Linked DNA regions of Homo sapiens. The protein of the gene in region 1 purifies or fractionates together with the protein of each later gene. This does not show direct contact. Each region holds a gene or a part of one and is shown in the gene's direction. Other genes may lie near its edges.

Region 1 (7,444 bases):
ATATGAAATTTGAAATGTAAAAAAGAAATTATTATGTGTTTGCATGTTACTTTCTAAATGCATTATTTTAAAAGTCATTCTACTAATTTTCATTTTTTACAAACTGTATAAAGTTAAATTAACTCACAAGAGAGGACTTTAATCCACTAATTACTTATTTGAATGGACAAAGCTGAAACCAAGTCCAAAGTTGAGTTATATCAATTTGTCAAGAAATCCCTTCTGGAGATGAGGTTGTCATTGTACTGTTATGCTGTTTTAACTAGTAAAATACTTCTGCCTTAGGATATGCTTTTTTCGTATCCTGGAATTTATTTTCCTTCCAGGAAAATATCAGGAAGCTGGAGGCATGATCATTAAAATGCACAAGAACAGATGTTGCTGGGTCTCTGTCAGGCACTGAGCAAATGTTTTGATGTGTCATTTCTTCCAGTTACTGTGGATGAAGAGCACAAGAATGGTGTGTTAGTTTCTTAGGGCTGCCATAACAAGTTACCCCAAACTTGGTGCCTTAATACAACGGACCTTTATTATCTCATACTTCTCAAGGCCACAAGTACAAAATCAAGCTGTAGGTAGTAGAGAACTCTGCTCTGCAGGCTGTAGGGGAGAAGCACTCCTTGCCTTTGACAGTTTATGGTGGCTGCAAGCCCATTCTTTAGTTTCTTGTTGCGTAACTCTCATTTCTGCCTCAGTCTTCACCTGGCCTTCTCCTTTCATCTCTGTCTCCCTCCTTTGGGTGTCTCTTCTAAGGACACTTGTCACTGGATTTAGGGTCCACCCAGATAATCTAGGATGATCTCATCTTGAGACTCTTAGCTTAATTATGTTTGCAAAGACCCTTTTGTCACGTAAGGTCATGTTCACAAGTTCCTGGGTTAGATGTGGATATATATATATATTTTTTAAGGCCACAATTCAATTCACAAAAAAAAAAAAGAAAAGAGTAGAGGAATAACGAGGCAAATATCACTTGTTATTTACTTTAATGACATGTCATATTTGGACAAACACAAAGCTAAGCCTGGAATTCCAATATCTTGGGAAATGAAAGATAAAAGCAGTCAGAAAAAAGTAGAACTATGAAGACAGTTTTATAAACTAGCTACTAATTCTTTTCTTTTTAGATTTACCATTAATCTCTTCCACTATTATGCCATCTGTAAACTTGATTGGCTTGTTGTCTATTTTAAAACCACGTTTTAAGGCAAAAACAGTGTTGGCTTGTTGTTCTCAGTGACTTCATTTTCTGAATAAACAAGACTGAACCCTTTTAAATGTCAGTAGAAACCTTTCTGGGAAGCACTATTTTTTTGCACACTAAAGACAATATACTTAACATAATTTAACCACTTTATGTATTCAATCATCTTTCCCATTTTAAAATTAAATAATGTTTTATATAAAATATGTGAATTCTCTGTAGCAATTTAAATTTTGATGTAGTATAGTACACATTATATAGGAATGTATTTATATGCTTTATTGAGTAAAAAAAGGAGGGGGGCAGAATATGCCAAGAAAATTTTTTAAGGACTATTGTTTGTTTGAAATGGTTACCAGTTAATTTCTATATATAAATGCAATGATTCTATTCTTATTGTATGCCAGGAAATGTTTGAAAATAAACAAATAGTGAAGTAGACTTAGGGTAGTCTAAACAATTTAAAGAGTATCAATTTTCTTAGAATCATAGAATTTAGAAACAATGTTAAATATGAAGTCCAAACTCATTTTACATGCCTAGTGGCAATTGACATTATGTGATTTGCTCTATGTCACATATCTGGCTATGACACATGTAAAATGTTAGGTTTCTAACATCATTCAATTCTCAGTATTTTTCTATCACTGTTAACCTGACAAATGCATCCACTTTGGACATTTTAAGTGTTTGTGAAAAATTAATGCATCCTCAATGCTTGAGAATGTTCATCTTTATGGAAACCAAATAGTATTTTAAAAGCAGGATTTTGGGAAATAATTTGTATTTGATTTTTTTTTTTTGGTCACTTTTTCAATGGATGACCTTACTCAAACTGCTTAATTTCTTTGAGCCTCAGCTACTTTGTTTGCAAAATGAAAGGACTACTATCTAATCCACAGGACTATTTTGAGACTAAATGAGATAAACGCAAGTTGAGACTAGCTCTCAGCCTGTATATAATGACTATTCAATCAGTGCTAGTTTCCTTCCCTGTACTGCTTATGAAAAAATCAGTCAGTTATACTATAGGCCTGTTGTGATGTATTCAATTGTGTTCCTCCCACCTCAAAATTCATGTGTTGAAGTTCTGATCCCCAATACCTCAAAGCAAATTTCTGCTGTTTAAGCCAGGGGTCCCCAGTCCCCAGGCCACGAACTGGTATCGGTTTGTGGCCTGTTAGGAGCACGGCTGTACAGCAGGAGGTGTGCGGTGGGTGAGCCTGCGAAGTTTCATCTCTATTTACAGCTGCCCCCACATCAGTCACATTACTGCCTTAGTTCCCACCTCCTGTCAGATCAGCAGCGGCATTAGATTCTCATAGGAGCACAAACCCTATTGTGAATTGTGCATGTGGGGATTTAGGTTGCCTGATATTTAGGAGAATCTAATGCCTGATGATCTGCCACTGTCTCCCATCATCCCCAGATGGGAGCATCTAGTTGTAGTAAAACAAGCTCAGGTCTCCCACTGATTCTACATTATAGTGAGTTGTATAATTATTTCATTATATAATACAATGTAAATAATAAAAATAAAGTGTACAATAAATGTAATGTGCTTGAGGCCAGGCATGGTGGCTCACACCTGCGATCCCAGCACTTATGGAGGCCAAGGTGGATGGATCATTTGAGATCAAGAGTTGGAGACCAGCCTGGCCAACCTGGTGAAACCCCAACCATACTAAAAATACAAAAAATTAGCCAGGTGCAGTGGTGTACACCTGTAATCTCAGCTACTCAGGAGGCTGAGGCACGAGAATCGCTTGAACCTGGGAGGCAGAGGTTGCAGTGAGCCCAGATCATGCGACTGTACTCCAGCCTGGGCAACAGCGAGACTCCATCTCAAAAAAAAAAAAGAAAAAAGAAAAGAAAAAGAAAAAGTAATGTGCCTGCCTGAATCATCCTGAAAGTATTTCCCCATCTTCCCCATAGAAAAATTGTCTTCCACCAAACTGGTCCCTGGTGCCAAAAGGGTTGGCACTGGTTTTAGCCACCCGGCCGCTGGTGTAAGCCACTCAGTTTGTGGTGCTTTGTTATGGCAGCCCTAGGAAACTAATGCACCTGTATTTCTTGGATTGATGGTTACTTGTAACGACATCTCTTAGGGATATTTTTTCAGCAGTCAGTCTGTATCAGGATCTGTAAGGTCCTTCTTTTCCAATTTCAAGGAAAGCAGGTCCAAAATCCCTTTCACCTAACTCTTAGTTGAGATGCTGTTCAAGAATGGAGAAGGTAAGGGGCCTCTCCAATATATGTGATTCTGGTTCCAATCTTCCAATATCTTACTATGCCCATACTATTTGTACAGGTTATAGGTTTGTGGAATAGATAGAGATCCTGATCTCTGTATCTATATCTGTATCTGATCTACATACTCTACATCTAAATCTGTTGAGCTTTTTATGAAACATAATACCACAAGCTTTTCCCCCTTATTTTGTAAAAGACTTGCTGAAAACACCATTTTAATAAAATTGTCATGTCATACACTCTCATATATTTTACCGTAATTTGCCCACTGTTAACACGTTGTTAGGCAATTGAAGGCCTTTCGCCTTTCTGCCACATCCCTTCAAATGAAGCTTTGCCCACATTTCAGAATATTTCCTTGAGATAGTGTACCAGAAAGGCTAAAAGCTATAAACTAGGCCAAAGGTAATAAACATTTTAATATTCCTAATACTTATCACCAAGTTGCTTCACAGAAAAGCTGGTTGTTCTTTCCTTTTGAATTTAATCACAAGAGAATAATCTTGGTAGCAAGAGTAAGAAGGTCATGGAGGGCATTGGAAGCATTAGTGTTCAACAGGCACAAGCAGGTAATAAATATCACCTTATGAAAAGCTCAAAGCCATGCACGGTGTTTGCATAACATGTTGCTAACTGAAGACCTCTCTGGTTCACAACCTTTCTGAAACTCAGCGTTTAAATGCAATATAGCCTATTAAATTGTCAGCTCAAGTACTCAGCAGAAGGCATCTCTATCTTCTTTGTTCTTGGGGATGTTTCTACTGACATGCACACTGGAGTTCAGAGATAATTTTCAATAAACTGTTGTCACTTGAAAATAAACAGTCTGGACAATGTATGGTCCATTTGGAGCACTGAGAAAATAAACAACCTAGGGTATGCTTCCTTCCTGTCTCTGTAGCCCTTTTTGGAATGTGTGTTCCAAATACTTCCCCTTCTTCCCCAAAGCAGGAGGTTTTATTTAAAATAAAGCTGTTTATTTGGCATTTCTGGGAGACCCTTTTCTGAGGAACCACAGCAATGAATGGCTTTGCATCCTTGCTTCGAAGAAACCAATTTATCCTCCTGGTACTATTTCTTTTGCAAATTCAGAGTCTGGGTCTGGATATTGATAGCCGTCCTACCGCTGAAGTCTGTGCCACACACACAATTTCACCAGGACCCAAAGGTGAGGAAAGAAAACCACAATTTTCATGTATAATAAATATGATATCTTCCCTCATCTCTGAACCCCTTCCTAGATTTCAATGACTTTCTCTTCTCTCCTCCCTAGTTTCCTCCCATTTTCCTTCTATTTTGGAAAATCAGGATTTTCCAGATCTGGTCTGTTACTTATTTAAAGCTCTCCTTTGATGTTAGGTAAGAGGATGTTGGGAAGGGGAAACCCAGGACGGAGATCTGAGGGAACTTACCCAGGGCAGGGGGAAATTCCCTGTTCCATTCTGCTCCGGGGCAGATGCACAATCCAGGCATGAGTCTCCAGAAGCCCTTTCCTTCCTTAAAAGCACCTCTATTATTGCACTGTTTGTACTCTCCTCCTTTCTAATACTGATGCTGGTAAAGCTGTTTAAGCAAAAGGTCAGTAACATAAAACTTAAATCTTAAATATATATTTCATAAGTTAATGGGATCCTGAGTTCCAACGTAGAGGATGGAAACATTTTGTCAAGCATTGAAGGTAGTATATAAATGAACATTTCTTTATTTGGAAGTGTAGTCTCTGGGGCCAAATGCCTTCTGCTCAAGGATGGTAGAATATTGCAAAATGTTCTCAAGTACAGCCAAGGTCCAAATATGCTTTAAGCAACCAGTAGATTTTAAAAAATCTATTTTTCTGGTTTTAGCTTTCACCCTTTTGTTCTGAAAGTGGTCACTGCACTGCAGATTGGTGCTCCCTTATTAGTAATTCATGCTGTTTCTCCAGGCTATAGGGTAGAAGAATTGCAGCTGCCTAAAATTTTAAGTAGAAAAAAGTGTTTTTCCAAAAAACAAAATTCAGAAATACATTGCCCCATGCCTGTCAGTTATTTAAATGTGTATTGCTTAAAGTGCATTTTTCTTAATCACTGAATTAATTTTCCTCTAAGATTGCAATCCAAGTTTTAACCTTTGATACGATAAAATAAATGCTGTGAGGAACAATGAGAGCTTAGAGCTTCCAAATAATTTCTTGGGTGAATAAATGAATAATGCGAGGGCAAATGTTCAGAAAGAAAGTTTTGATTAGAAATAAAGTATTTGCTTAAAACCGTTACTGAAGTTTCCTTAGAGTATAGGAAACTTTAGATTATTCCTGGGGTGTCATGGGGGCATTGAAAATTAAAGTTTTCCTTGTCCCTGCAAATGGGAGAATCCATTTGAGAATAGCACTATTTTTTACCTAATAGAAAACTTCTCCCTTCCCATTTTCCCATTAGAAACCCTGTTAAAACTTCAAACAGTGGAAATCTCATTAACTTTCCTCCTGAGCATCTGCAGACATTATGAGATAATTACAAGCCAGAGTGTGACAAAATGAAGTGAGTGATCCTGGGGAGAGGGACTTGGGAAGCGGTGTTCTAGAACCGTGGGTTCTAGAACTAAGTCTGTTATGTTCTTGGGTGTGATTTCCTCTTCTTCATCCAGAGCCTGGAAACTGTATCACATGGACTCCAAATTTTATTTTTAATAAAATTTTATTCTTAATAAAATTCTTAATAAAATAAATTCTTAATAAAATTTAATAAATTTTGTTCTTAATAAAGAAATCCATGATCCTGGAATGTACTGAATACCTACTAAGATCCAGGCATCATGTTAGATGCTAGGGGTTGGAAGCTAAGATAAGTAACCTGTCCTAGCTCTCGCATCTACATACCAAGCTTTGTATTCTATTACAAACTCTTGAGGCCGGCACCAATTTATGCTTTTTCTTTGAAAATTTCCTACACACCTAAATGCACCTAAAGCAACATGAGTATATTCATCACTGCCTTTCCTGTGCTCTAGGCACCATGCTAGATGATATGGGTACACCAGAAACCAAGACATGATACCTTCTCTTAAGATATGAACAGTGGGCCAGGTGTGTTGCCTGCAATCCTAACACTTTGGGAGGCCAAGGCAGGTGGATCACTTGAGTCCAAGAGTTTGAGACCAGCCTGGGTGACATAAAGAGACCCCATCTCTACAAAAAATTAAAATAATTTTTTAAAAATTAGCCAGGTGTGGTGGTGCACACCTGTAGTCCCAGTTACTTGGACGTCTGAGGCAGGAGAATTGCTTAAGTCCAGACAGTTGAGCCTGCATGGGCCATGATCATGCCACTTCACTCCAGCCTGGACAACAGAGTGAGACCCCATCTCAAAAAAAAAAAAAAAAAAAAAAAAATATATATATATATATATATATATATATATATGTAAACTGCCATCTACTCTACCTTGTTCCTTCATGAATACTGTGACAACCCCTCCCCACTCCAAAATAAGGCAGATATGTATATTTACCTCTACAAAATTAAAAAGAATAGTATGATGGTTAAGTAAGTGTTTTAAAGGTCTGCGTTATTACTGTTTTTTCAATATTTTTCCCCTAAGATCAAGCTAGTCTTAATACTTTTCTTCATGGCTAATCATCTCATTACTGTATTTACTAGCACTGCAGCACAGTGCTCAGAAGTTTCTAGATACTCTGGGAAACAGTGAAATGAATTTTCCCTAAATTCATCTGGGAGAGTGAAAACTAAATGAATTATTTAGAATTGCAGAATGGCATTTGTGAAAACCCAGTAATGCTAACCAGTCATAGAATATATTGACCAATATACAGATATTATTTTTAAAGTCTTATTTCCCAGACATGGTTTAGTGGAAAGAAAGGCACTGGAGTCAATCTGATTATCTTCAGCATGTTGTTACATCTGTTACACTTCAGTGTCTTCATTTGCAAAATGAGCCTTCATCACAGACCTCTTTTAAGAATTATGATAACCAATGTGAACTTTAA
Region 2 (7,027 bases), on another chromosome or scaffold:
GGATCTAATGACACAAAGATGATTTTAAGCAGTGTCTCTCACTTTGGAAATTTATTGTCTAGTTTGGACTATGAGGGAATTATTTTCATATATACAATTTTTTTTCCAGGAGTAGCCATTCTTCTTTCAGTTAGTCAGGGGTCTTTTGGATTTCCCTCTCTTTCATTGGATGACATAGTTAAACTATATTGTGCTTTCTCTCATGCAGGGCAGCCACTGATCACAATGTGGATAATACAACAGAAATATTCAGGGAGTGGTTGAAAAATGTACAGAGACTCTATCACTATGTGGAGTGGAGGCCTATGGATGAACCAGAGTGAGTAGCAAGTGCGAAATTTGTAAACTCATTATTTACCCTTCCTCTTTAACTAGCTCTTTAGGGCTTCCAGGTTTGGAGGTACATGTGACTTTTCATTGTCTTTCATTTCTGTAGCTATGTGAGTTCTGAATATCTGCCATTTCTCCCTTTTAGAGATCTTCACAGTACTCTCTTGCTGTTTACTCCCACAGCTGCCAGCCAAGTTCAGATTTTCATTACTTCATAAATAAATTGCCATGACAGTTTATATTTTTAAATATTGATATTATTTATTCATATTTTAAACAAACTTTTATATTTGGAGGATCATATTGAAAATGTGTATACTTTCTACATAGAGCTTGCTTTTTTCAACTTTTATCTTGATAATCATTCTATAGCAATAGTTAAGGAGCTAATTTTCATTTTTTTTACTGCATAATCACTGTTGTATGTGCATTTACCATAATTATTTAATTGATCCCCTACTGATGCTCATTTAGGTAATTTCCTATCTTAACCATAGAAATTCCTTCTTTCTTTCTTTTCCTTCTTTTCTTTCTTTTCTTTTCTTCGCTTCTCTTCTCTTCTTTCTCTCTCTCTCTCTCTCTCTCTTTCTCTCTTTCCTTCTTTCTTTCAAGACAGGGTCTCACTCTGTCACCCCAGCTGGAGTACAGTGGCATGACCATAGCTCCACTGTAACCTCGTACTCCTGGGTTCAGGCAATACTCCTCACTCAACCTCCTGAGTAGCTAAGACCACAGCCATGCACCACTATGCCTGGCTAATTTTATTTTTATTTTTTGTAGAGACATGATCTCACCATGTTGTCCAGGCTGGTCTTGAACTCCTGGCCTCAAGCGATCCTCCCACCTTGGCCTTCCAAAGTGCTGGGATTACAGGTGTGAGCCTTTGTGCCTGGTTACCATAACAATTTCTTTCTTTTTTTTTTTTTTTGAGACAGAGTCTTGCTATGTCACCCAGGCTGGAGTGCAGTGGTGCAATCTTGGCTCACTGCAACCTCCGCCTCCTGGGTTCAAGCAATTCTCCTGCCTCAGCCTCCCGAGTAGCTGGGACTACAGGTGTGTGCCACCACACCCAGCTATTTTTTTGTATTTTGAGTAGAGAGGGGATTTCACTATGTTAGCCAGGATGGTCTCGATCTCCTGACCCTGTGATCTGCCCGCCTTGACCTCCCAAAGTGCTGAGATTACAGGTGTGAGCCACCGTGCCCGGCCACCATAGCAATTTATTAATTGCTTCTATCTCCAAGTCATCCTACATACCATACAGTCAAATCAATCTACCTCAAATACAAATGAAATGGTTTCATTTCTTTATTAAAAATACTTCACTTACTCTTTAGGACCTGAACAAAGTTCAAACACCTAAGACTTATATTTTTAAAATTCCATGAATTTAGCACCAAAAGAAAATGTGCTTTATCCAGAACGTTTCTTTTATTTCCAAACCCCACACTGTTGCTTGTGCAGGTCCTGGAAGACCCTTTCCTTCTTTATAACTAATTCTTATCCTAAATCATGCCTACTATAGAAACCTATTCTTAATCACTCAGTTATAAATATCTACCTTTGTCTCAACAATTGTATTGCTTATATTCTATGTCATCCTTTTTGGCACAATGATATACGCAACCAACATTTTCCCCCTATGCAATTAATGTATTTTTTTTCTAAATAAGTTGTAAGTTCTTTGGCAGGGGCTAGAATATATAAACACTTTATATTCCCCCTCTCCCCTCAGAGCCATGTTCTTGGCAGGCACTAAATTAATACTGGTTGGATGAACAAATAAGAACAAGAATAAATGTATTTAAAACTTACTATTATAAATGTTCCCAAAGCTACTACAGTTTTACTTTAAGGAACTGTAGAAATAGAATGAAGGAGTTGCCTGAATTTCTTCCCCAGAGAAGTCATTTATTGAAAGCCAAATTTGTATTATAGTAATAATAAATGCCATTCCAGAACAAGTTTCTGTTCTTCTAGTCTTTCTATATGTAAGAATTATTATAAATATTTATATTATAAAGAAATATATATAAATATGATATAATATATACATATGTGTTTCTCAAATCCAAGCCCATGGACTGTATATCAAGCAAAATTTAACAGTGAAGTCTGAACACCGTAAAAGATTGTAAACACTCCTTTAGAGTGCCTTATAATGGAGTTTGGCCTAACAAAAATGGCACAGAAATACTTTGTGTCCCTTCTTTGCACCTTGGTAATGTTCTCTGCAGCCAGGTTTTGACTAAATATATTATATGCCAAGGTCAGTGTGAAAAAATATTAGAACAGGCATTTTTGGGGGGAATATATTTAGAAAAATGAGAATTCCACTGATTTTCATTGAAACAATAACTGGGGAAGATATTCCAGAGAATTCCTGTGCTGTACATAGTTTTATTAACCTTATTTGTTTAGTTACAGTCTCATTGTTTTTGCAGTTTTTCACTCACTAAAACAAATGTACTGCCAGTGCAGCTATGAGATCTTGAAGTGGTGGCCAGTTTTGGGTTACTGCAACAGTATCAATGTCCGTGCCAGCTGGGTGCCTTCAGAAGGGTTTTGGAGCGTGCTCCAACCCACTTGCCTATGTGGCCATGAAGGAGTCTTGGCCTGGCTGTTTTGTGAATCTTGATAGAGATCCCACGACCTCACTTTACCTAAGATAGATCAATGTGTTAGGCTGTGTGGAATCATTTGTGGAGACTCCAACAAGTAGATTAAACCTTTGATTTTCCTGGGAAACTCATGTTTTACACTGCATACTCTCCAAATCTATTCGATGTCGGGATGTATAAAAATTGTCTAGGAACATGAGCTTTTTGCTTGGATTCAAATCTTGATTGTGCCCCATTGTGTAACATTGGACGAATGACTTAACTGCTCTACCCTGATATCCTCACCTGTGAAATGCAGAGAATAGCAGTACTCACCTCAAAGGGCTCTCATTAGAACCCACTGAAATATTTCATGTAAAGATTCTTGTATACAATGAGCAGTGAGTTACTTGACTTCTCATTGCTCCGGTTTCCTCATCTGTAATATGGGGATGATGATAACAATAATAATAGTATCTACTTCCTGGGATTGATAGAAGATTAAATGAATACATATAAACATTTAGGACAGAGCCTGGTACATGTAGGCACTCAATAATGATGAGCTATTATTATTATTTTAGGTCTTACCCTGATGAAATTGGACCAAAGCACTGGCCAACCTCCCGGTTTGCCCATGTGATGAAACTACGACAGGCAGCCCTTCGAACTGCGAGGGAAAAATGGTCAGACTACATTCTGGTAAAAACAGATGTTTGATTTCTTGACAACTGTCATCTCAGGTGTATCCAAATCAGTCGTCCAAAAACTAGAACCATGGAAGCAATCAAAACAACCTTTTTGATTAGGCAGTGCCTCCCCCACTTTTTAAGAAAGGCACAATGAAATTTTTGGTAGTTTAAAATTGGGCTACCTGGACTTCATCTTCAGGCCCACATGCATTTTCAGTGGGTAAGTGAAGAAGTGCCTGAATTATTTGGTCTCTGCCATGCAACAGGCATAAGAACTCTGCATATTTTTAGCTCACAGGAAAGGCTGTAGGTAAAGCAATGTAAGTTGTTCTTACAACTTTTTGGAAGAATTTGGGGGATATGAAAAAGTAATTATCTAAAAAAGTGATTCAGCTGAACAGCTCTGAAATGGTTCCCTTTTGCTCCTGAATGATCTGGGGAGTAGCATCTGTTGCTTGGCACAGTGATGCTCTCTTTGGAGAATTTATGTCCATCCCCATCCCCTCAACCACAGTGAAAATCTGCCCAAAAATGTATCACGCACACTTGTGACACAAATCCTTTCATAGAAGTTTTCAAATTGTACTGACAATATTTAACATTGTGTAGCTGTTTAAATGCCATTGAAGTGTACAAATGTTAAATCACAAAATTTGGGGTAAACAGATGGACTATCATAAAAATGAAGACTTCTGAATTTTTTATTGTGATAAAACCTACAAAAGGTAAAATCTGTCAGTTTATCCCTTTTTCAGTGTATAGTTCAGTATGATTATTTCTTTTATAAATTAGAATCTGTTGTTATACTGTCTCTAAATAAATCACTGTTAACATGGACTTCTAAGAATAGGAAATAGCTTCACTGGTTAGCATGGGTTGATATAATGTACTTAAACAAAAATTCTACTTGTCACATTAAAATTCATTGATAGATCTGTTTTGAGCTACTCTGGCATTACTATAGAAAAGCTAAGTAGGCATGCCCATCTGTACCTAGACTGGGCAGCCAATAAGTGTTTTTGAATGAACCTTTAATGGCTTGGGAGCCATTAATATCTTGTGCCTAAAACACTAGCCAAAGTGTAGGTTGGTTCCTGGTTGAGGCTATGCCCAGTATGGCAGCACCAATTTACTGCTTAGTGCCTTATGCAGAGCCCAACATACGAAAGTTAGACTAAATATATTTTGACTGAATGAAAGCCACCTAGCTGCAATGGGTTTCAATAAGGAGGACATAGATAGCTGGTTCCATATGTCATGAGCAAGTTTCTGGGATCCTTCAGAAGGGCTGGGTTATTCTCAAACTCATTACTGAAAAGTACCTTTTCACCTAACATTATCCTTTTCTTTTCCTAGTTCATAGATGTTGACAATTTCCTGACTAATCCACAGACCCTCAATCTACTGATTGCAGAAAACAAAACTATTGTGGCCCCCATGCTGGAGTCTCGGGGCCTGTATTCTAATTTCTGGTGCGGAATCACCCCTAAGGCAAGTCTTTTGCTTAAATGAATTAAGGCTACTAGTTTTAACAAGGCAACACCCGGTCAACAGTAGTCCCATTCACCTTTCTCTTGTTTACTCCCTTGAAACATGCGTGTCATTGTGTTCCCAGAGCAAGCATTTTTTAGGAAGGGCAGTAAATCTGGGTCCAATGCTACACCCAGTTGGGCTCTTCTGTGTTAATTTATTATGAAAAAAATAGTCTAAAGAGCTTAGCCTTAGAAACGTCAAATTAGCCAATTCCTGATTCAGGAATTACTATTTTTAATTAATTCTTTTTGTCCTTACAAAACTAACATAAGAACACTATAGAAAAACTTAGAAATTAAAAAAAGTTTAAAAGAAAACCAACAAGACAGATGTTAAATCCCCATCACCGTAACAACATCATAGATAGAAACTTGCACGTTTTTAGTAACTGTGTTATCATCAAGTGGCTATGTTCCAATTTACTTAACCTTTATCTCGGTTTGAAAAACATTTAAATTATTCACAACTTTTTAACTATCGTGACCGTCATGATTAATATAATTTTTCAGCATTTAAGATTATATCCTTAGGATAGCTTTTTAGAAGTGGAATTACTGAGTCAAACAGTACAAATATGCCAGGCGCGGTGGCTCACACCTGTGATCCCAGCACTTTGGGAGGCCAAGGCGGGCGGATTACAAGGTCAGGAGATTGAGACCATCCTGGCTAACATGGTGAAACCTCATCTCTACTAAAAATATAAAAAATTAGCCAGGCGTGGTGTTGGGCGCCTATAGTCCCAGCTACTCGGAAGGCTGAGGCAGGAGAATGGCGTGAACTTGGGAGGCGGAGCTTGCAGTGAGCCGAGGTCGCGCCACTGCGCTCCAGCCTGGGTGACAGAGCGAGACTCCCTCTCAAAAAAGAAAAAAAAAAAAAAAGTACAAATATTTCAATGACCTTCGATGTATGTTGCCAAATTTATTTCCAAAGAGTTCTAATAATGAAAACTACCATGGTAGGTTATTTTTATAAAATTCAAGTTAAAAAAGGTTTGATTTTTTATTATTTCTTTTTTTCATAGTAAAATCTTCAAAATAGTGGTCTGTTTTAGTGAATGCTCATGGCTGGTTATATTTTTTATTCTTTAATTAAAGAATTAGATAAATTCAACTGATTAATGTAATATGTATCAATGTAGGATAAAAATGTGCTAAGCAAAATATGTTGGCCAGGAGCAGTGTCTCATGCCTGTAATTTCAACACTTTGGGAAGCTGAGGTAGGACAATTACTTGAACCCAGGAGTTTGAGACCAACATGAGCAACATGGCGAAACCACATCTCTACAACAAATCAAAAAATTAACCAGTTGTGGTGTCGTGCACACCTATAGTTCCATCTATTCGGGAGGCTGAGCAGGGAGTATTGCTTGAGCCCAAGAAGTTGAGGCTGCAGTGAGCTATGATCACACCACTGCACTGCAGCCTAAGCAACTGAGACCCTGTCTCAAAAAAAGAGGGAGTATGTTCAATGTATTCTCATGGCCAAAGGGCTAAAGTTTGAGTCTCCCCTTTATATTTGGTTTTGTTTTGGATGAGAAATAAGGTCAGTAGTGTGCTGATAAATGTTTAATAACTGGCTCTTTGTGGGAAAAACCCTAGTTGGTAGCATTGCCAATTTTTATGGTTTAAATACTCCCACCATGCAAACAGCTTAAATGTTGTTAAGCTAAGGGAAAGGTTAAGTAAACTGCAGTATAGCCACTTGATGATACAGCTATTAAAAACATGTAAAACTGCCACATGAGGTGTCATTAGAGTGGTGGGGATTAACGTGATTTTTGTTTTTATGGATTCCAAGCTATCAACATGTCAACTGGTTTGCAAACTTTCTGAAAATTTAACAATGTGTGGTCCAGTACACCACTGGATGAA

Evidence for each region. The genes of interacting proteins can lie anywhere in the genome.
Region 2: the proteins of COLEC10 (region 1) and COLGALT2 purify together in Homo sapiens (affinity purification with mass spectrometry; 3 studies listed by BioGRID and IntAct, with this or other methods). This does not show direct contact.

The regions. Positions count from the first base shown.
Region 1 is NC_000008.11:119,062,805-119,070,248, forward strand, and holds the start of COLEC10 (collectin-10 isoform 1 precursor), read left to right. Parts: upstream 1-4,442; 5' UTR 4,443-4,477; coding exon 4,478-4,625; intron 4,626-4,869; exon of another isoform or gene 4,870-5,978; intron 5,979-7,444. UniProt on the Homo sapiens protein: Lectin that binds to various sugars: galactose > mannose = fucose > N-acetylglucosamine > N-acetylgalactosamine. Acts as a chemoattractant, probably involved in the regulation of cell migration.
Region 2 is NC_000001.11:183,971,702-183,978,728, reverse strand, and holds part of COLGALT2 (procollagen galactosyltransferase 2), read left to right. Parts: intron 1-208; coding exon 209-319; intron 320-3,514; coding exon 3,515-3,632; intron 3,633-4,978; coding exon 4,979-5,113; intron 5,114-7,027. UniProt on the Homo sapiens protein: Beta-galactosyltransferase that transfers beta-galactose to hydroxylysine residues of collagen.